Linked DNA regions of Homo sapiens: region 2 is linked to region 1. Evidence: fine-mapped expression QTL. A gene starts in region 1. The other region holds a variant in brackets. All regions are shown on one strand. Distances are between the middles of the regions.

Evidence for each region.
Region 2: its variant is fine-mapped to the expression of PABPC1L in whole blood (INTERVAL, PIP above 0.99).

What each region holds. Positions count from the first base shown.
Region 1 is chr20:44,903,933-44,914,895 of GRCh38, reverse strand. PABPC1L (poly(A) binding protein cytoplasmic 1 like) reads right to left here and starts at 4,836. Exons shown (of 15, transcript NM_001372179.1): 1 at 4,560-4,836; 2 at 2,043-2,236. The coding sequence starts at 4,752. YWHAB (tyrosine 3-monooxygenase/tryptophan 5-monooxygenase activation protein beta) reads right to left here. Exons shown (of 6, transcript NM_139323.4): 3 at 10,780-10,903; 4 at 9,765-9,928; 5 at 8,800-8,895; 6 at 6,364-8,514. The coding sequence ends at 8,458. RefSeq lists a silencer at 4,653-4,982.
Region 2 is chr20:44,925,803-44,936,636 of GRCh38, reverse strand. It overlaps PABPC1L (poly(A) binding protein cytoplasmic 1 like), which reads right to left. Exons shown (of 15, transcript NM_001372179.1): 8 at 5,911-6,177; 9 at 4,205-4,295; 10 at 3,452-3,580; 11 at 1,140-1,246. Among named protein-coding and RNA genes, the nearest start is that of PABPC1L, 21 kb to the right of the region's middle. The variant G/A (reference allele first, on the strand shown) is at 4,612.

The sequences.
Region 1 (10,963 bases):
ATGACTTGTCCAAGGTCAGCCAACAGAAGTAATTCTTTGATTGTTACAGTTATCACTTAGAAGCTTAACAGTATGCCAGGTACCCTTTTAAGGAGTATACATGTATGCAGAAAACCTAACACACAGAAAGTACATGATAAATCTGCCATTATTATTGTGAAGAACTTAATACACAGTTAAGAGTCTTTCTTCCTTTGATCCTCAAAGACAGGAAACAGCCCCGTCTCTCTGTCACAGATAACCCTTAGTGCATTACTACATCTCCTCAAGTCTACCTGCTCCTCTGAGCCACAGGGATAGCCTCTTATTGACTGGGAATTTGAGAGCCCTCGTTGAGAACTTAAGGATTATGCTTGGCACACAGTAGCACTTGATAAAAGTTCTGACATGCCAGGTGCAGTGGCTCACGCCTGTAATCCCAGCACTTTGGGAGACTGAGGCGGGCGGATCACAAGGTCAGGAGATCGAGACCATCCTGGCTAACACGGTGAAACCCCGTCTCTACTAAAAATACAAAAAAAATTAGCTGGGCGTGGTGGCGGGCACCTGTAGTCCCAGCTACTCAGGAGGCTGAGGCAGGAGAATGGCGTGAACCTGGGAGGAGGAGGTTGCAGTGAGCTGAGATCGCGCCACTGCACTCCAGCCTGGGCAACAGAGTGAGACTCCGTCTCAAAAAAAAAAAAAAAAAAAAGTTCTGACACATAGGCTACAAAAACTGTCCCCATCCTCCCTAGAATAGCAGACACTCCAAAGGCTACGGGGTAACTGATCAACTATCCTTATAAAATCTAGAGACAGAACACCCAGGTTTAAGCCCTCTGTTCCAGACATACTGACCTGCTATATGGCCGCTGATCCTCAACATCCTCATATAAAAAGTCAGAGAAATAATCAGAATCCTTCTCAAATGACATACCTCCACTGGCTCAACATATATTTATTGAGCACCTAATATGTTTCACATCTTATTCTAAGTATTGGGATACAATAATGACTAAGAACAAGATCACTGATGGAACTTACATCTAATGTAAGACAATCTTAAAAACAAGATTCAATAACTTAATTGCCTTGATGGCCCCAATTAATGGCCTTCCTGTAGCCACACCCTTCATCCTATAATTTCTACTCCCCTCTCACTCTGAATGTGGGCTGGTCTTGTGACTTGCTTTGGTCAATAGAATGTAGTGAAAGAGGCCAGGTGCGGTGGCTCATGGCTGTAATCCCAGCATTTTGGGAGGTCAGGAGTTCGAGACCAGCCTGGCCAACACAGTGAAACCCACCCTGTCTCCACTAAACATACAAAAATTATCCAGGCATGGTGGCTCGCACCTGTAATTCCAGCTACTCGGGAGGCTGAGGCAGGAGAATCGTTTGAACTCAGGAGGCTTGAACCCAGGAAGTTGCAGTAAGCTGAGATCATGCCACTGTACTCCAGCCTAGGCAACAGAGTAAGACTGCATCTCAATTAAAAAAAAAAAACGTAGTGGAAGTGATGGTTCCAGTTCTGCATTTAGTTCTCAAGAGGCCTGGTGTGCTTCCACTCTTGTCTTCTGAGCCCCTGCCATTGCCATGAGAATACCATGAGAATAGCCTGGACTAGCCTACTGGAGGACAAAAGGCCATAGGGAGGAAAGCCAAGATGTTCCAGCTGACAGCCAGTCGCTCCCTCATATACCCAGCGAGAGCTCCCACTCAGCTTTCAGTGGGCATAGGAGGGAACCCAGCCAAGACCAGAAGAACTGCCCAGCTGAACTTTGCCCATTGCCAACTGTGGAATTATTAGCTAAATAAATGATTGTTGTTGACGGCCACTAAATTTGAAGGTGGTTACACAGCGAGAGCTGACTGATACACAGGTAATGTCTGGTCATTCACGGAAGATGAAACTGAAAGAACGGCTGTCATTCAGGTGCTTGCTGTACCTGAAACTTGACTGAAAGGACCTTGTAAACTGTAAAGTGAGGTGTTGCTTGTCACCCCTCTACCAGGCAGGTAGTTGACACCGATCTACCCAAAGACGTACACCCTTCATCCTCTACCTTGCAAGAGAGGATGTTCCCAAAGGTGGAGAAGGTATCATATAAAGCCTTGTTGTCAATGGAGTCCTCCAGGTTCTTGATGAAGATGTTGCCCACACCTGACTTGCGAAGTCCTGGGTCTCGCTGGGACCACATGATGCGAATAGGCTGGCCTTTGAGCATCTCAAAGTTCATTGTGTCCAGTGCCCGCTCCGCTGGACAGAAGGAAGAGGAGAGAAATTAGCAAGTTTAGGGAATTTTCTTACCTTGATCACCCACCCCTCGAGGTGCTTAACTGGGAGCCAATAAAGAGAAAGTCATTGTCTGGGTCCCAGACAATAAGCCAAGATAAGAGCCCAAATAACTGAGATAAGAGCCCAAAGGCTCAGGAAGGATAAGCTGAGAATTAGTGTGTATGGTGCTCCCCCAACCTTCCAGTTATGATCTCATTCAACCAACTCCCTGCAGCCACATGAGCATGGATTCCTGCCCCTCATTTTACAGATGGGAAAACTGAGAATAAGAAACATGAAAGGTCTGTGGCAGCGTCAGGTCTATTCTGGATTCTAAAGTACACTGAGTGGATAACAATGTCCATATGACAAGGGGTGGCAGCACTTTGAGGAAATTAAAACTCAGAGGTGCTGCAGGGCAGAGCTGAGGTTAGATCTCAAGCAGTCCGGCTCTGGGGAAAGTGGACATTACCTCTCTGAGCCTGTTCCTCACCTGTAAAGGGGGAATGATGGTAATATTACCTACTTTTCCACACCTAACAAAGGGAGATACTACCAACTACCAGGTTGTTGGAGGGACTGAAAAATAAAGAAGGTATGTAAAAGTGCCTTGTTTGTAACTTTGTGCCTGACACAAAATAATGTCTCAAAACAGCAGCCGATGCCCAGCCTCCGGCCACTGCTGCAGCCTGTGTCTCTCCTGGGTGATACACGTGACCTGTTTCAGGGAGTCTGCTAGTGCAGAGACATGGAAGGGGGCTGTGGGGAACACAGTGGAGCAAGTTTCAGGAAGCCCGGATTCTCCACCTAGTCTTATCATAAATACCTGGGGCAAAACCCTTCTCTCTGCAGCACGGTTTCCAGGCCGAGTCCCACTTCATTCACAGGGCTTGGAGGAAGATGGGAAGAGGCAGGAGGTGGAGCAAAGCAGAACAAACAGAAAAGTGCCCAGGAATCCAGCCCAGTAAGGGGCGGGGAACAGGCCCGGCGGAACAACCCCTTCCCTAGCAAACCACCCACTCAGGCAACCACCAGGTTCACCCAGGCGACCTGGCGCAAGGGATCCCTCTAGTGGACGCCGGCCATTTTTTGGGTGAGTTTCTGGAGTCTTACATCAGAATGTTAAAGCCACTATTTTCGTTGTTGTTTCTTTTTTGTTTGTTGTTTTGTTTTGTGTTGAGATGGAGTCTCGCTCTGTTGCCCGGGCTGGAGTGCAATGGCGCAGTCTCGGCTCACTGCAACCTCTGCCTCCCGGATTCAAGCGATTCTCGTGCCTCAGCCTCCCCAGCAGTTGGGATTACAGGCGTCCGCCATCATGCCCAGCTATTTTTTGTATTTTTAGTAGAGAAAGGGTTTCGCTATGTTGGCCAGGCTGGTCTCGAACTCCTGACCTCAAGTGATCTGCCCACCTCGGCCTCCTAAGATGCTGGGATTACAGGCGTGAGCCACTGCGCCTGGCCTTATTTATTTATTTATTTATTTATTTATTTATTTATTTATTTATTTTAGGTTACCACTTAAGAGCGTTTACGAGGTAACAAGCAGTTACCATTCTTTATGCATAGACAGCAGTTCTCCATTCTTTATGTTATTGGAGAATACGCCTTAGCCCCATTTTGCAGATGAAAAGGTGCAGAGCGTGAAGGCTTGCCCAAGCTCACTCATCCTCTCCACTCTCAACAGAAGTGCAGGCAAACTCATCGGACAAGCTCTAATCAATGCTATCAGCTCTGAGAAAGCGGCCTTGCGGCCTGGAGGCAGCGGTTTTTCAGAGCCCGTGCAGGTAGAGGCGCCCAGTGTGGATCTCACGTCGCGCTGGGAAAGGCCTGAGCCCAAGGCTGGGTTCTCCTGCCTCCCCTGCTCACCAGCTGTGTTGCCTTGGGCATCTTCCTCACCAGGTGCTTTGAATCTCTCATCCTCACAAGCACTCTATAAGGCAGCTAGGACCCCCATTTTCCAGACACGCATCTGAAGCTCAGAATGGTCGAGTAACTTGCCCAGAGTCACACGGCTGCTGGGCTTCTATCCCTGGTCCGCCTGACCCCCACCCCCACCCCCACAAAGCCTGTATCTGTTTTCACTCGACCCTAATCTCTCTCCTCTGTAGAGGAATAGCAGTAAACCACACTAATTACCAATTCCCGTCTCAGGGGCCAGGCCTCTGCCAACGCCCTGTTATCTTTGAGCCTCAGTTTCCCCGGCTGCAAAGTGTAAGATGAAAGCGCAAGCGGCCCAGTTCCGGCTTCTGTCTGTCCGCCTGCTTGTCCGTCGGTCCTTCCCCTCCCGCCCCATCCCCGGGGCTCACCGTCCGCGGGCTGCTGGAAGTTGATGTAGGCGTAGCCCAGCGAGCGCCGGGTGGCTACATCGCGGCACACGCGGATGGACAGGATGGGGCCGGCGGGAGAGAACTTCTCATAGAGCATGGCCTCGGTCACGTCGGGGTGCAGATCGCCCACGTAAAGCGAGGCAAGCGGGTAGCCAGAACCGCTGGCGTTCATGGTGGGCAGGGGGCCGGGGCTGCGGGGCAAGCAGGAGCCGGGTCACCCAGCAGCCCCGCGCTCACCCGGGCGGAAGCCCTCCTTCCTGGGCGCGGGCCCGCCCCTTCCCTTTACCGCCCCCGCGTCCCTGCGCACCAATCGTGGGCGCGCTCGGACGCCCCTCCCCCGGGATCCCTCCTGGGCCCACCCCCCACCTGCGAGCACTTGGGGATCTAAAAGCTACAGGTGGGGACACCTCTGACCCCGCCCTGGGAGGCGGAAAAAGCCTTCAACCTGGCCTTGAGCAGGGCTGCTGGGACTTGAGTGGAGCTCTCAAAACCCCCAGCTCTTTTGAAAGAGCCGAGGACTGGGACGGAAAGGACGCAGGGGACTGAGTTCTAACCCCGGAACAGATGATCATCTTTCTGAACCCGTTTCCCTTCTCTGTAAAATGGGAATGATTCCCTCCTGACAAGAATGAAAGGAGACCCAAACCGCGCTTTTTGCGTTTCACACACAAACGGAATTCCGAACAGGCCACTGTTTCAAAGCTTGTGTAGAGAATTTTACCCTGCTCCATTGAAGATGTCTTCCTCCAGAGAGCCTGATCCAGTCCCACCGTTTCGCACCAAGGATGGAAATGGCTTTGAGACATGAGAACTGGAGACCACTAAGGCCTTTCTTGGTACTGGCTCATATTACCAAGACCCCTTTTCCTGGGATATTCCCTGTCCCTCTGCTAAGCCATTACACATCCATTACACCAGGGAGGTTCACTGAGTTACTTGTGGCTCAGCCTAAATGCGGACAATTGGGAACTAATAGCAGAGCAAGACCTAAACAGAGCAAGACTGTGAATCTGAGCTTGCAGCGTCAATCTGTGGTATAGGGACATTAAAAACAACACAAAAACAAAACAACTACTCCACTGAGCACCAATACTTCACTTTTCCTCTGATAGGACTTTCCTGGTCTCACTGATCCAACAGAGCAGGTAGGCCCCCACTGACTTTTGGTTGAGTGTGGCTTCAACAGGTGGAACAGCTCCTAAACTAGGGACAGAAGGTGCCCATCTGGCTGTCCAGCCTCAGAGTAGCAAGGAAGCACTAATTCTAATCTTGGGCTAAAAAAGACCCCTCTATCCTGATATTTTTCTCTCCTTGTGGTAATGTGGATGTTTTCAGAAGGGGCAAATCCTGTGAGGAACCAGCTCTGCAGGCCACCATACAGTGTGAGGACAGGTGAGACGCCAGCTTGGTGATGACCAAGACTTATGCAACCATAGGTTACCTATTTCACTGGCTTGGTTGTATCTCAGAGTTAAAAAATGGGGAAGGGATGGTGGGCTCGAATACAATGCAAAATAACTGTCCATACCAAATCTTAGAAGTCACTAAAGAGGACCTAATACCTGCATGGTTTGTTGTGGAAGGTAGAGAGGTATCAAGTAACGGGTGTAAAGAGGCTGTTTAATTAATGGTAATTTCTTCCCCTGGATAACACCTTGACTTCTGGTCCTAAATAATGAAATAAAACTGTTTGCCTATTTTTAAAGAAAACAGAGTTAAAAATAAGTGTGATCAGAATAGTTAGCTAGGTCTGGTAACAACAGAGATGGTGGTGACACATCAATTCACAGGCAACTAACTGATAAAATTTTTATTTCACTTTTGAATTTTTACACTTTTCCTGATTATTCTGTGTAAGGTGAAACTAGAACTGTTTAAAAGACATACACAAATCTAGTACATCAATAACCGGGGATTTTTCTTTTTTGCTATACTATTTTCACAACCACGGGTGTGCTTGCTAGGCAATATAACCATCACAGAAGCAAACGTTAGGCAGAATACTGGTAAGAAAAAACAAAGCAAGAAAAGAGCTACCAGATATACAGACAGGCTTGGTTCCACATTCACTACTGCATTTTCAAGCGCCAAGTATTAACTGCACATTTTTGTTCAGCTAGAAAGGAGGGATTTTTTTTTTTGTTTTTTTCTTTTTTTTTGGTTTGTTTTAAATCAGTGCATAAATTTTTCTTTTCTCATTTCAGCAGATGGACAAACAGATGGACTCTACAGCTAAGTGGAATATCAAAGGTAGAGGGGTGATTCTGTGAGACTGATAGGCCTGACTATTCTCAATTCTCCCCACTGCAGTGTTCACGCAACTTCCCTGAATATAGGGTCTCCTTAAACACATCTGAGCACTGACCTGGATGAGTGCACTTGGGAGACCTGGTGACAGGCACAAAAAGCATGATCAGGGCTAGCCTCAATACAGGGAGAAATCATGGATATTTAAAAATACTTTTTTGATTCAGATTCCGGTATGACTGAAGAGCAACACCGTGTTGAGAACTGGAGGAAGACAGGGTTCTGGTGCCAGAAGCTCTTCTCCAATCTTTAAAGCCAGGCTTGCTCACCAAGGTGCTCAGTAATGTCTCTCACCCCTGCCCATATATAGCATTAAAAAGTGAACAAAAGACAGATAAAGATAGAATTCAAAAAGGAAAAAAAGTAAGGAAGCAGAGGGACAGAAACTTAGAAGAGAAAACCAAGGTCAACAGTCAAAAAGGATGGTGGGAAAGAATGTTTAGATTTCAAAATTTAAAAGCCCCGAGCTAGGAAGAACCTGAAAACTGAGTACTCCTCAAGTGAAAGGCCATCTCTACAGAACATCATTCCTTTTTTTGTTTTTTGTTTTCTTTTTTGGAGATGAGGTCTCGCTATGTTGCCCAGGCTGGAGTGCAGTTATTCACAGGTGCAACCACAGGGCACTGCAGCTTTAAACTCCTGGGCTCAAGCGATCCTCCTGCCTCAGCCTCCCAAATAGTTGGGACTAGATGCACGCACCACCACGCCTGACTCAGGACATTATTCTTAAAGGTATTATCCAGGAAACAGATAAGGTCATTCATAAAACACACGGCTTTTTTTCTTTAGCTCAGTGTTAACAATGAAAGTAGATTCCACTATTGAAGCACAAGTTGCAAATTGGTAACATAGTGAACATATTGCTGTAGGAAAGGGGGTTCAGTGTGGTGTGTTATATGAGCACTTGAACTTTTCAAGGTGTCATAAGCCAGTTATCTGCCACAAAGAATTTCCATTTCAGGATTCGAGTTTCCTCAGAGGAAGACACTGTGGACATTTGTGGTCATGAACTTTTAAGTGGCAACAGCCCAAACAGGTCAAGTGTCTTTAAGTCCCGAACAACGGCAGCATTACTGTGAATTACCATTCAACTCAAATGCCAAATGATGTGTGTCTCACTCCAAGTTCCAGCATCACAATATAATCTCTATAACTTTCTGTACAACTTTACAATGGAATTGTATTTCAATGATTATTTTGATATCAGATTAAACCTTCCAAAAAGTTACACATAATTCAGGTCTATTTTTTCTACCAGTAAGAGTTCTGCTAAATTACAAAACCCCATAATCACAGTGTTCAGTTTTTAAAAAATTAAACACACAGTAATCCTGTCAATGTTAATCAAAATCAAAACTTCGGAATGCCGTGGCATTTATGTGACCAATCTGAGTTTTAGATACAAATACCAGCTGTTTATCCCATGAACCATTTTTCCTAGGCTGAGGCTGTGAAAAATCGAAAGTCGACGTACGATTCTCTTTTTTTTTTTTTTTTTTTTTTTATCGCACAAGGGATATATGTTGAGGGTACAGAGTGACACTGAACAGATCACAAAGCACGAGAAACATTAGTTCTCTCCCTCCCCAGCGTCTCCTTCGTCTCCCTGGTTTTCCGATGTCCACAGCTGCAAGAGAAAGGAAGTATAATCAAAGCAGGGCTACTAAAAGTTCCCTAGGTAAGTGGCCCAGTATGTATAATCTTATCTCACTCGACAGTTTAAAATTATTCCTGTGTCACTGCAGACAGGGATGATTGCAAAGGTCAAAACTTCAGCAGTCATTTATAACAAATTTAACAACTTAAAACTGTAACTACATTTAATGGTACAAATCCCCTCTTGAAGATAACAGTGAATTATTAAGTAGGTGAATAGGAAAGAGACTATAAACCCTGTGGAAGTAGTACTTACAGTGAGATTGTCCCTAAGTAACTGCATGATCAGAGTGCTGTCTTTATAAGACTCTTCATTCAGCGTATCCAATTCAGCAATTGCTTCATCAAATGCCTAAAACAAAGAGCCTTTAGCAAAGAATTCACAAGTTCTCTGGAGCTAGTTTAGCCCACTTTTTTTCCCGCTAGGTGAATATAACTTATCTTCTTGTACAGTACTTTGGGGGAACCTAGGCTATTATTACCCTGTCTGTTAGCTGTTTCCAGCAGAAGTATAAGGCATATTTACAAAGCACCAACCAACAATGACAGAAACTCCAAGGTAAGAACTTTGCTGTACCTAATAACTAAGCAGTATTACTGCTAACCCTAGCACAGTCATTCTGGGCAAACGCGTGTGATTTTTTAATTACCAAAGACTTTTCTAGCAATCTTCTATTTAAAATTATTTATTTATTTAAACTAAAACTCAAAATGTCTGGAAACTCACATCACTAAATCTGATTTAAGTGACGGAACTTTAAGGCACCTTTCCCGAATAAAAATGTTTTTAAAAAGTTGTGTGCATGTTGAGGGACTATAAAAAATATGTAGAGAAGGCCAAAGGAAGAATATGGAAGGTAATCCAACACACAACAAGAATGTGCTGTGTATTTCTTTTATACAACTATAACCTCAAATCTTGGCATGAGAATGACAATGTATAACCAAGGCCCAAAGCTTGGTAAGAAACAACTAACTACATTCACCTGGAACTTTCTACAACCACCCGCAAAAAACAGTAATCAAACAAAGTCAGCAGAAGGTATTGAGAATGAATTAAAAAAGTAACAGATCTGTATTTATCTCATAAAAGATACACTCCCACCCCCAGAAAATCTTTCAAAAAAAGTCCAAGACAATGAGTATGTTCAGGAATAAAATGAAGTTAATAACACAAGCACTGTTTTGCTATGGTTAGATATCACAAAGGGTCTTTCTCACCGTTTTTGCCAGGCTACAGGCCTTTTCAGGAGAGTTTAGAATCTCATAGTAAAAGACTGAGAAATTTAGTGCCAGACCAAGACGAATTGGGTGTGTAGGCTGCATTTCTTTCTTACTAATTTCAAATGCTTCCTGGTAAGCCTGCTGGGAGTTCGACACAGTGGCTGTAACATAAAGATGAAAATATTAAAGGCTCGGTTCTTTCATAGGTATCACACATTGGACCAACTATCAAATTATTTTCTCAGTCCCAAACTGGGCAGGAGCAATGACCTATCAAATGAAGTGTCAGTGTCTCTGCCATTCAATTATACATTTGTTAGATATTTATTCTAAACCAAGTTGTATATTAAATGCTTTGGGGGAAAACAATTATGACAAAGTCTACTAAAGCAGTTAAATACAGCTATAACCTTTAACAATATAGAATGTGAAAAACCATACATTCTAGTGCAAACATCACAGGCTTTAGAGTCGATAGATCCAAACTTTAATTCCCAACTCTTACTCCCTAGGTCTGTGGCTTGGGGCAAGTAGAAACCTCCATAAACCTCAGTTTATATGAAAAATGGGCAGCCTGCCACCTAACTCGTAAGGCTGTGTGAAGAGTAAGTGAGACTCGGAAGTACTTGGCACAGAAGCACTTAATAAAGTGTGGTTAAGATTACCACCATCACGGTAATACATGTGATAAATGCAATGCATCACTAGGGTAGTTTCGTACCACCAAGTATAAAAAGTTCACTGCTAAAAAGAGAGCTAACAAATAATACTCAAGATAAGATCTTTTTAAATACACTGCGCACCAGGTTTGTAATGCCCTCCATACTTCCCTGTCAGATAAATTTTTATTTGCCCGCCCATGACCCCGTTCGTCACAATGCTGTGGTCTTTTAAATTCTTAGTACTGTGACATTGGTGTCTATGGCGAACAAAGCAAAAATCGTTAAAAAGTCCCTGTGAAAGAAGACTGGCTCCATTACTGGTCGAATTTCTTTTTAAAGATATTACTTACTTTGTTTGTTGTCTCCAGATGCCACTTCAGAAAGATACCTAAAATAATCTCCTTTCATTTTCAAGTAGAACACCTTACTTTCTGGTTGTGTAGCATTGGGAATAAGATATTTGTCCAACAGCTCCTAAAAAATGAACATTGTTAAGAATTTAGAATTATTCACGAGATGTTAAAACTATGTTTG
Region 2 (10,834 bases), 22 kb before region 1:
CTGCATGGTGCCGGGGACACATCCCTTAATCACCATGGACAGGCATGTCCTCAAAATACTTACCCTGGCAAGTGAGCAGAAGGCCAGGGAGGCACTGGAGGAGGGGAACAGAGGGCAAGGTCTGGATGATCAGGTGGGGTGGAGAGTCCCCAACAAGGGCAAAGTGGATTAGAAGACAAAGTCATGCCTCTAGCTTAGACGTTTCCTGTAGTGCTACGAACTTATAAAGGTCCCTGATGAACGTTGATAAAGGAAAGCCCTGTGTTACCAATAACTTTGTGCCAAATAAAGCACTTTTTATCAAGTAGATTTATGGACATGTCCCCGGCACACCTCTCACCCTTTCACATCTTGGTAATTTTAAAACATTTTGGCCAGGTGTGGTGGCTCACACCTATAATCCTAGAACTTTGGAAGGCCAAAGTGGGAGGATCGCTTGAGGCCAGGAGTTTGAGATCAGCCTTGGCAACATAATGAGACCCCTGTCACTACAAAAAAATACACAAAATTAACCAGGCATGGTGTCACATGCCTGTACTTGGAGGCTGAGGTGGGAGGATCACTTGAGCCTAGGAGTTCAAGGCTGCAGTGAGCTATGATCACACCACTGCACTCTAACCTGGGTGCTGTCAAAAAAAAGACCCTGTCCAAAAAAAAAAATAGACATTTTTGCTGTTTAAAGACTGTTCTCATTCATTTTGCAGGAAATAGTTCAAAAGAGACACATTGAAATTCTACACAGGATATGATAATGCTGAATTTTAGGCCTTTTTTAGGGGAGGGAGATAAATACACAGTCTTTGATTACAGTAAGTATTTTCTGTTTTGAAGATTAAGTACATCCCTTCAATAATCAGCATATTCTTAGAATACCTTTCCTTGGTGTTCATCACAAATACTAAGGATATCCAAATTAATTTTGGTAATAACCGAAGCAAAACAAATTGTAAATAAAACGTAATGCTGGCCCTCTTTCCCCTTCTCGCAGTAAGGGTGATCTCTTATTGATTGTACACATTAATAAACGAAACTTTACAAGCCAAGAAAAGAAAAAAAGCCAAGGCCCAACACCTTAGCTAAGGTTCTGAGCCAGGCGGCCAGGAGCCCAGGCTAAGAGCAGGCAGCTGGGCTGGCCTTACCCGATAGGTGCTATGTGCTGCTGAGGAACATTTGCACGGCAGGAGCGGCCGGCCTGGTGTACAGCATCCTACCCCACTGGGTCCTGTGGTCTGAGTACCAATGTTGGCTGCAAAACAAAACAAAACAAAACAAAAAAAGCAGAGTTCAAATAGCTGCTATCCAAAAACAAAACAAAACAAAACAACACCAAAACAGAAAATAACAAGCGTTGACAAGAATGTAAAGAAATTAGAAGACTGTGCACTGTTGGTAGGAATGTAAAATGATGTAGCCACTACAGAAAAACAGTATAGGGCTTTCTCAAACAGTTAAACAGAATTACCATATCATCCATCAATTTTACCTCTGGGTATATACCCAAAAGAATTGAAAGCAGGGTTTCAAAGAGCTATTTGTACAAACATTTTCTTTCTTTTTTTTTTTTTTCCTGAGACAGAGTCTTGCTCTGTCACCCAGGCTATAGTGCAGTGGTGTTATCTCGGCTCACTGCAACCTCCCCCTCCTGGGTTCAATCAATTCTCTTGTCTCAGCCTACCAAGTAGCTGGGATTACAAGCACATGCCACCACGTCCGGCTAATTTTTGTATTTTTAGTAGAGACAGGGTTTCACCATGTTGGTCAGGCTGGTTTCGAACTCCTGACCTCATGATCCACCTGCCTCAGCCTCCCAAAGTGCTGGGATTACAGGCGTAAGCCATCACGCCCAGCCTGCACAACCATTTTCACAGCAGCATTATTCACAATACCCAAAGGGTAGAAAAGTGTCCATTGATAGATGAATGAATAAGTAAAAATGAGGTCTATACATACAATGGAATATTATTTAGCCTTAATAAGGAGATTCTGACACACGCCACAACATAGATACATCCTGAGACATGTAAAGTAAAAAAACTAGCCACAAAAAGACAAATACTCTATGATTCTACTTACATGAGGTACCAAGCAAGAACAGTCAAATTCACAGAGACAAAGTAGAATGGCAGTTGCCAAGGGCTAGCGGGAGGAGGAACGAGAAGTTATGGTTTGATGGGTACAGAATTTCGGCTCTACAAGCTGAACAGAGTTCTGGAGAGTGGATGGTGGTGACAGTGCACAACAGTGTGAATATACTTAATGCCATTGATCTGTACACTGAAAAATAGTTAAGTGGTAAATTTTGTTATGTGTATTTTACCACAATAAAAAGGAATAAGCAGGGGTGTCAGGGCCTGGCAGCAACCTAAGGCCAGAGACTGAGTATACCTCGTTCACGCAGAACCTCCAGTGCTGAGCTTGGGGCCCCAGCACACTGTGGATGTGAGAACATTTGCAGAATGAAAGAACAGATGTGCTTGCTGTACAGCCAAAACCTACACCCTTGTTTATAGTCACTGCAATACTTACCAGGCTTTAGGCCCAGTGCTAAGCCCTTTCATGCATGATCTCATTGATCCTCAACAACAAGCCGGGCATGGTGGCTCATGCCTGTAATCCCAGCACTTTGGGAGGCCGAGGCTGGTGGATCACCTAAGGTCAGGAGTTCGAGACCAGCCTGGCCAACATGGTGAAACCCTGTCCCTACTAAAAATACAAAAATTAGCCAAGTATGGTGGCGCATGCCTGTAATCCCAGCTACTCAGGAGGCTGAGGCAGGAGAATCGCTTAGAACCCCGGAGGCAGAGGTTGCAGTGAGCCGAGATCACACCATTACTCTCCAGCCTGGGCGACAGAGCAAGACTCGATCTCAAAAAAAAAAAAAAAAAAAATTAAGGCTGGGCACAGTGGCTCATGCCTGTAATCTCAGCACTTTGGGAGGCTGAGGTGGGCGGATCACCTGAGATCAGGAGTTCAAGACCAACCTGACCAACATGGAGAAACCCCGTCTCTACTAAAAACACAAAATTACCCAGGCATGGTGGCGCATGCCTACAATCCCAGCTACTTGGGAAGCTGAGGCAGGACAATCGCTTGAACCTGGGAGGCGGAGGTTGCAGTGAGCAGAGATCATGCCATTGCACTCCAGCCTGGGCAACAAGAATGAAATTCTGCCTCAAAAAGAAAAAAAAAAACATTTAAATTCTCTACAATAAAATGGGGGTACTATTTTTGTCCCCATTTTAAAGATTAGGTGACAGATATAGTAGTCAGCAAGGGCCTCATAGTCAGTTGGTCCCAGGAACTGGAGGCCAAGCTAACTACCACGCTACAGTCTCCAAAGTCAGCTTTGCTCACCGAGAGGGCATATGGCAAGGTCACCATGGAGGCTGGTCCTGACTCCTAGTGCCAACTTTGCCCCACCCCCATTCCCCTTGGCCCTACCCACACTCACCTACTCTCTGGGTATGAGGCACCGTGCGTGGCACCTGGGTGGAGGCCTGCCTGACACTGCTGATGTGGGCCGGGGGGCGCCGAGGCACAACTGGTGGCCGGACCATTGAGGCACCTGGAGGGTAGGCAGCTTGTGGTGCAGACACCACAGAGAGAGAAAAGTTGGATGGAGTGGTGGGAATAATCAGGGTGGCACACTGTGCCTAGAAGCTTCCAGGGCCACCAAGAGAATGGGAAGGGAAACTACAACATTCACAACAGAAATAGGAGTCAATTCACTTAGACCCAGAACTCCAGAAAGGGGGAGTGTAGGAATCTACAATTTCAAAGCCAGCTCGTGTCTACCTAGAGCCCCAAACTGCATAAGCACCAGGATTGTACACCTTAGTCCCTCAAGATAGTTTCAAGTGAGCGTGCAATTCACTCTTACAGAGGAGGGCCTTTGGTCAACAATATAGCCAGAGGAATTTCACCTTCTCAGCTTTGCAAGAATTTTCAGAGTCACAAATCAGAGGCATCTTTGGTGATGACTGCTGGTGGCTAGCTGCGTGTCTTCCATTGGCTCACCACTGTGCTTGGTACTTTACACACGTCTCATTCAGGCCCATGCTCAGAAGAGGAAACTGAGGCTCAGAGAAGTGAAGTCACCCACCTTGGGAAGTGGCAGAGCCAGGTTTCATCCCTGTGTTATGACTGCCTCACGGGGCCCACACCAATAGGCCAGTCTGAGAGTGGAAGGGGCTGGGTCACTCACAGGAAGGTCTAGGTGGCTGGGATGTCCACCTGGGGGCAGGCTGGGTGGGTGTCACTGGGCCACAGCCATAGTATGCAGCCTGGGCTGGAGGCTGCATGGGAAAAGAAGACCCAGACTGAGGGGCTTGGCGGCAGGGTAGGTGAGAAGCTACACCTCCTCAGGGACACCATGGCAGGAACTCCACTGGCTCCTGCAGGGACTGGTGAGTCAAGACCCACAAGGCTGTAATGAAAGCTCCTTCCTCCCATCTCAGGATGTCCATTAGCCCTGAATCCTGCAGGGCAAAGATCTTAGATTTCAATCTTGGCTCCCTGTCAGCTAACCCAATGACCTGGATAAAAAGGGTGACATCTTACTCCAACTTGTGCAGCTTAAGCAACTGCTAAAAGGAGAGGAATGTTCTTACC[G/A]TGGTGGCCTTTAATGGGTGACATCTTTCTACTTCCTGTAAGTCCCACGAGGTCCTTTCCCAAACCATGCTCCTCAGAACATTAACATCCAGGGGAGATGTTAACAGGCATCCCACAAAAAAATGACCATCTAAGCTGGGGAAATGCTGGATAATCTGTGCCTGTTTTGGAGAGTCTCAGTAGACATTGGCATCTTAGGGTAGAATAGTGTAGATAGTAAAGAAATTTAGGGCCGATCATGGTGGCTCATGCCTGTAATCCCAGCACTTTAGGAGGTCAAGGAGGGCACATCACTTGAGGTCAGGAGTTCAAGACCAGCCTGGCCAACATGGTGAAACCCCGTCTCTACTAAAAATACAAAAAATTAGCTGAGTGTGGTGGCACGCACCTGTAATCCCAGCTACCCGGGAGGCTGAGGCACAAGAATCACTTGAACCCAGGAGGAAGAGTTTGCAGCGAGCCAAGATGGTGTCACTGCACTCCATTCTGGGCAACAGAGCAAGACTCTGTCTCCAAAAAAATAAAAATTTAATTTTTAAAAAAATGTAGGGCGGGGGACGGTGGCTTACTCCTGTAATGCCAGCACTTTGGGAGGCCAAGGCAGGAGAATTGCTTGAGCCCAGGAGTTTGAGACCAGCCTGGGCAACATGGCGAGACCCCTTCTTTAAAATAAACAAAAAAATTAGCTGGGCATGGTGGCACACACCTGTAGTCCCACCTACTCAGGAGGCTACAGTGGGAGGATCACTCAAGCCCAGGAATTCAAGGCTGCAGTGAGCCATGATCATGCCATTGCTCTCCAGCCTGGGTGACATGGAGACCCCGTGAAGGAAGGGAGGAAGGGAGGAAGGGAGGGAAGAAGGAAGGAGCCATGATCACGCCATTGCTCACCAGCCTGGGTGACATGGAGACCCCACGAAGGAAGGAAGGAAGGAAGGGAGGGAGGGAGGGAGGGAGGGAGGGAAGGGAAGGGAAGGGAAGGGAGGGAAGGGAGGGAAGGGAGGGAAGGGAAGGAAGGGAGGAAGGAAAAATGTAGGTCTTGCTTAACGCAGCATTTCCCAAACTTGCTGGATCATTAAGAGTCTTTTTCAGCACAACATTCACGAGCTTCTCTCACTGGGAAATGCCATTTGACTAACACTATCTCTCCCTTTTATAGAGAGGGAAACAAAGACTTCCTAATGAGTCCTCGGCAGAAGCAAGTTAGAAACCTCCATTTCCCTAGAACTCTAGTCTTCATGCTCTGCCTTGCTGGGGCAGGGGGGAAGGCTGCGGTGGGAGTTGCGGGCAGGCCGTCACCTGGGGCATGGCAGGCAGGAAGTAGCTGGAGGGCTGCTGAAAGGAGCCCAGGAGGGGGTTGCTCAGGGTCCGCATGGTGGAGAGGCGCTGCATGTACTGGTTGGTCAAGATGGCCTTCCGCTCCTCTTTGCGCTGGGCCAGTGCCACGTAGAGTGGCTTGGTGCCCACGATGCGCCCGTTCATCTCTGTCACGGCCTTTGTCGCCTCTTCTGGGGAGGAAAAACACACAAAGCCAAACCCCTTGCTGTGGCCACCCTCTGTCATCACCTAAAAGCAAGACAAGACAAGAGCTGCTGGGGTGGGGAAGGAAGGCTCCTGGGGCTGCGCTGCCTCCCTCCTCCCCATGGGCTAAGCCCAGCACTGGGCAGGCCCGCGAGAAAGCTGTGATGGAGGGATGTAGCGTGCACCCCTGTTTACTAAGCTGTGTTCGAGGGATGTAGTGTGCACCCCCGTTTAGCAAGCTGTGATGGAGGGATGTAGCGTGCACCCCCATTTACTGAGGAGTGATGGAGGGATGTAGCGTGCACCCTGTTTACTGAGCTGTTTGAGGGATGCAGCACGCACCCCCATCTATGAGGCCTGCTGCATGCCAGATACTTTACATGTCTTCACACCTCACATGTACAACCTCCCGATGCGGGAGGCATCGCGGCTCCCACTTTACAGCCGGGATAAGAGAGACTCGAAAGAGTGACTTGTCTGGGGTCACTCAGCCTGTGGTTCATACGTTAGCCAGGACTCAACCCAACACATTGTTCTGGTAAGCTTCTATCGCCTCTGCTAAGTACCAAGCCAAGTTCTTTAGGAATTTGGGGAAGAGGTTCTTAGCCTTTTTGTTAAAATAACCTTTTTACTTTGGAGTAACTTTAGATTTACAGAAAAAGTTACAAAAACAGTACAGAGGGTTGCTATATATCTTTTTTTTTTTTTTTGAGACATAGTTTCACTCTGTCACTCAGGCTAGAGTGGAGTGGCACGATCTCGGCTAACTGCAACCTCAGCCTCCCGGGTTCAAGCAATTCTCCTGCCTTAGCCTCCTGGGTAGATGGGACTACAGGCGTGTGCCACCACACCTGGCTAATTTTTGTATTTTCAGTAGAGAGAGGGTTTCACCATGTTGGCCAGGCTGGTCTCAAACTCCTGACCTCAAGTGATCTGCCTGCCTCAGCCTCCCAAAGTGCTGGGATTACAGGCGTGAGCCACCATGCCTGGCCTGCTGTATATCTTTCACCCAGTTTCCCCCAATGTGAACATGGTACATTTTTCAAAACTACAAAATTAACACTGGTGCAATGCTATTAACTATTTTATACCATTAGCTCCTATTAACTACAATGCTATTAACTGAACTCCAGACTTCACTGGAATTTCACTCTTTTTTCCCCTAATATTCTTTTTCTCTTCCAGGATCCAACCCACATGGCATTTAGGGTTTGTCTTTTTGTTTATTTGTTTGTTTTTTAAAGAGATGGGGTCTCACTCTGTCATCCAGGCTGGAGTGCAGTGGTATGATCATAGCTCACTGCAGCCTCAAACTCCCGGGCTCCAGGGATCCTCCTGCCTCAGCCTCTCAAGTAGTTAGGGCTATAGGTACATGCCACCACACCCAGCTAATTTTTTTTTTTAAGTTTGTAGAGATCAGCAATCACTATGTTGCCCAGGCTGGTCTCAAGAGATCCTCCTACCTAGGTCTCCCAAGGTGCAGGGATTACAGGCAGGAGCCACCACACCTGGCCCTGGGTTTTTAACCTTTTTTTAGGGTGAAGACACCGGCCTGGCTCATACAGCCCATAAGGACTAGAGTTATTTTTAAAATCTTCTTTTTTTCCTTTTTTTTTTTCTTTTTTTTTTTTTTTTTTTTTGAGTCAGGATCTCACTCTGTCACTCAGGCTGGAGTGCAGTGGTGCAATCTCAGCTCAACTGCACCCTCAACCTCTCAGCCTCAAGTGATCCTCTCAACTCAGTCTCCCAAGTAGCTGGGACTGCAGACAAGCACCACCATGCCTAATTTTGTTCATTTTTTGTAAAGATGAGGTCTCATCCTGTTGCCCCGGCTGGGCTTGAACTCCTGGTGAGCCCACGCTCTTAATCAGTAATTTTGAAACTGTACTCTGCTACCCTTCAGTAGAGGGGTCTTAACCTGAGAGTCCATGGATCCCCCTCAGGTAGGTCATGGATACAATTTAGGGGGAAATTGCATGGATTGGGGAAAAAGTGACATCTTTATTTTCATATTAGCATTTCCTTCTATTATGAATATGGGCAACAACAAAAAAATCCTGGCAGTATTAGCCATGAATTTGTCATGAAGAAAAAGAAAATATTTTCATATCACATTAATTATTGCTAATCTCAGCCGAGCGCAATGGCTTATGCCTGTAATCCCAGCACTTTGGGAGGCCAAGGTGGGCAGATCACCTGAGGTCAGGAGTTCGAGACCAGCCTGGCCAACATGGTGAAACCCCATCTCTACTAAAAATATACAAAAATTAGCTGGTTATGGTGGCGGGTGCCTGTAATCTCAGCTTCCCAGGAGGTTGAGGCAGAACCCAGGTTCTTGAACCTGGGAGGCAGAGGTTGTAGTGAGCCAAGATCATGCCACTGCGCTCCAGTCTGGGCGACAGAGTGGGACTTCGTCTCAAAAAAATAAAAATAAAAATAATAAAAGAAGCACATACTGCTTTCACTTTAGTATTTTGACCATTATATTTTTTCAGTATGATTTTTTTGTACACCTAAGAATCTTATTTTATGCATTTAAAAATATTCTTAGGGCCAGGTTTGGTGGCTCATGCCTATTTTTGGGAAGCAGAGGCGGAAGAATTGCTTGAGCCCAGGGGTTTGAGACCAGCCTGGGTAATATAAAAAATAATTATCCAGGCATAGTGGTGCTCCTATAGTCTCAGCTACTTGGGAGGCTGAGACAGGAGATCACTTGAGGCCAGGAGTTGGAGGCTGCAGTGAGCTGTGATGGCACCACTGCATTCCAGCCTGGGTGATAGAGCGAGACTCTGTCTCAAAAAAGTTTTTAAAAAATATTCTTAGAAGGGTTCCACAGGCTTCATCAGATAGCCAAAGGGCCGGGCACAGTGGCTCACGCCTGTAATCCTAGCACTTTGGGAGGCTGAGGCAGGTGGATCACCTGAGGTCAGAAGTTCGAGACCAGCCTGGCCAAAATAGTGACACCCCATCTCTACTAAAAATACAAAAAATTAGCTGGGCATGGTGAGAGGCGCCTGTAATCCCAGCTACTCAGGAGGCTGAAGCAGGAGAATCACTTGAACCCAGGAGGCAAAGGTTACAGTGAGCTAAGATTGCACCATTGCACTCTAGCCTGGGCAACAAGAGCAAAACTCCATCTCAAAAAAAAAAAAATATATATATATTGTTAAGAACTTCTGGCAGTCGGTAGTTAATAATGATAAAATTTAGCAAAGCTAACACTTATGCAGAGCTTACCATGAACTTGATAGTGGTATAAGTATTTATATCCATTAATTCCTTTAATTTTCATAATTATTTTTATATAAAACAAAATACAGGCCAGATGCAGTGGCTCATGCCTATAATCCCAGCACTTTGGGAGGCTGAGGTAGGAGGACTGCTTGAGCCCAGGAGTTCAAGACAAGCCTGGACAACACAGCAAGACTCCCAATTTCTACCAAAAAAAAATTTTTTTTTAAATCAGCTGGGCATGGTGGCACATGCCTGTGGTCCCAGCTACTTAGGAGGCTCAGGTGGGAGGATCACTTGAGCCCAGGAGGTTGAGGTTGTGGCGTGCCATGATCACATCATGGCCCTCCAGCCTGGGCAACAGAATAAGAACCTGCATCTAATAAAAAATAATAATAAACCAAAATATATAAAATCGCATAACATAGGCCAGGCACAGTGGTTCACGCCTATAATCTCAGCACTTTGGGAGGCCAAGGCGGGCAGATCACCTGAGGTCAAGAGTTCAGGACCATCCTGGCTAACATGGTGAAACCTCATCTTTACTAAAAATACAAACATTAGTAGGGCTTGGTGGCGGGCGCCTGTAATCCCAGCTACTCAGAAGGCTGAGGCAGGAGAATTGCTTGAACCTGGGAGGCAGAAGTTGTAGTGAGCCAAGATCGCGCCATTGCACTCCAGCCTGGGCGACAAGAAGGAAACTCTATCTCAAAATAAATAAATAATTGTATAATATATATATATATGTAGGCTGGGCGTGGTGGCTCATTCTTGTAATTGCAGCACTTTGGGAGGCTGAGGCGGGCGGATTACTAGGTCAGGAGTTTGAGACCAGCCCGGCCAACACAGTGAAACCCCGTCTCTACTAAAAATACAAAAATTAGCTGGGCATGGTGGCAGGTGCCTGTAATCCCAGCTACTCAGGAGGCTGAGGGAGAAGAATCACTTGAACCCGGGAGGCGGAGGTTGTAGTGAGCCGAGATGGCGCCACTGCACTCTAGCCTGGGCAACAGAGCTAGACTCCATCACACACACAAAAAATAGATATATTTATAATCCCCATTTTATACCGTTTGTCCTGTTAAAAAGATGGTCACCCCAGGTGTGCCTTAACTCTAAGCAATCCAAATTTACACATTTCCTTTGTTCGGGGAGTCCTCAAGAAGGTCCATCTCCTGAAGCTGTATGCAAGGTGTATGATGAATCATTACGACAATCACTATTTCACTACTTATTGAATGCAGATGCTGTACATGCAGCCTCTTTAGTAGTTCTTAGGACACCTGGAGAGGTGAGAAATGTTGCTCCCACTTTATAGGTGAGTAAACAAGGTCCGAAAAGCAAAGCCACTTGCCTCAGTTTCTACAGCTAGGTAATGGTAGGACTGGGGTTTACATTTAAACCTGATTAACTTTAAAATTCCAGCTTTCAACCATGTTTCTACATCAAATGTATATGCATTTGCTTGGAA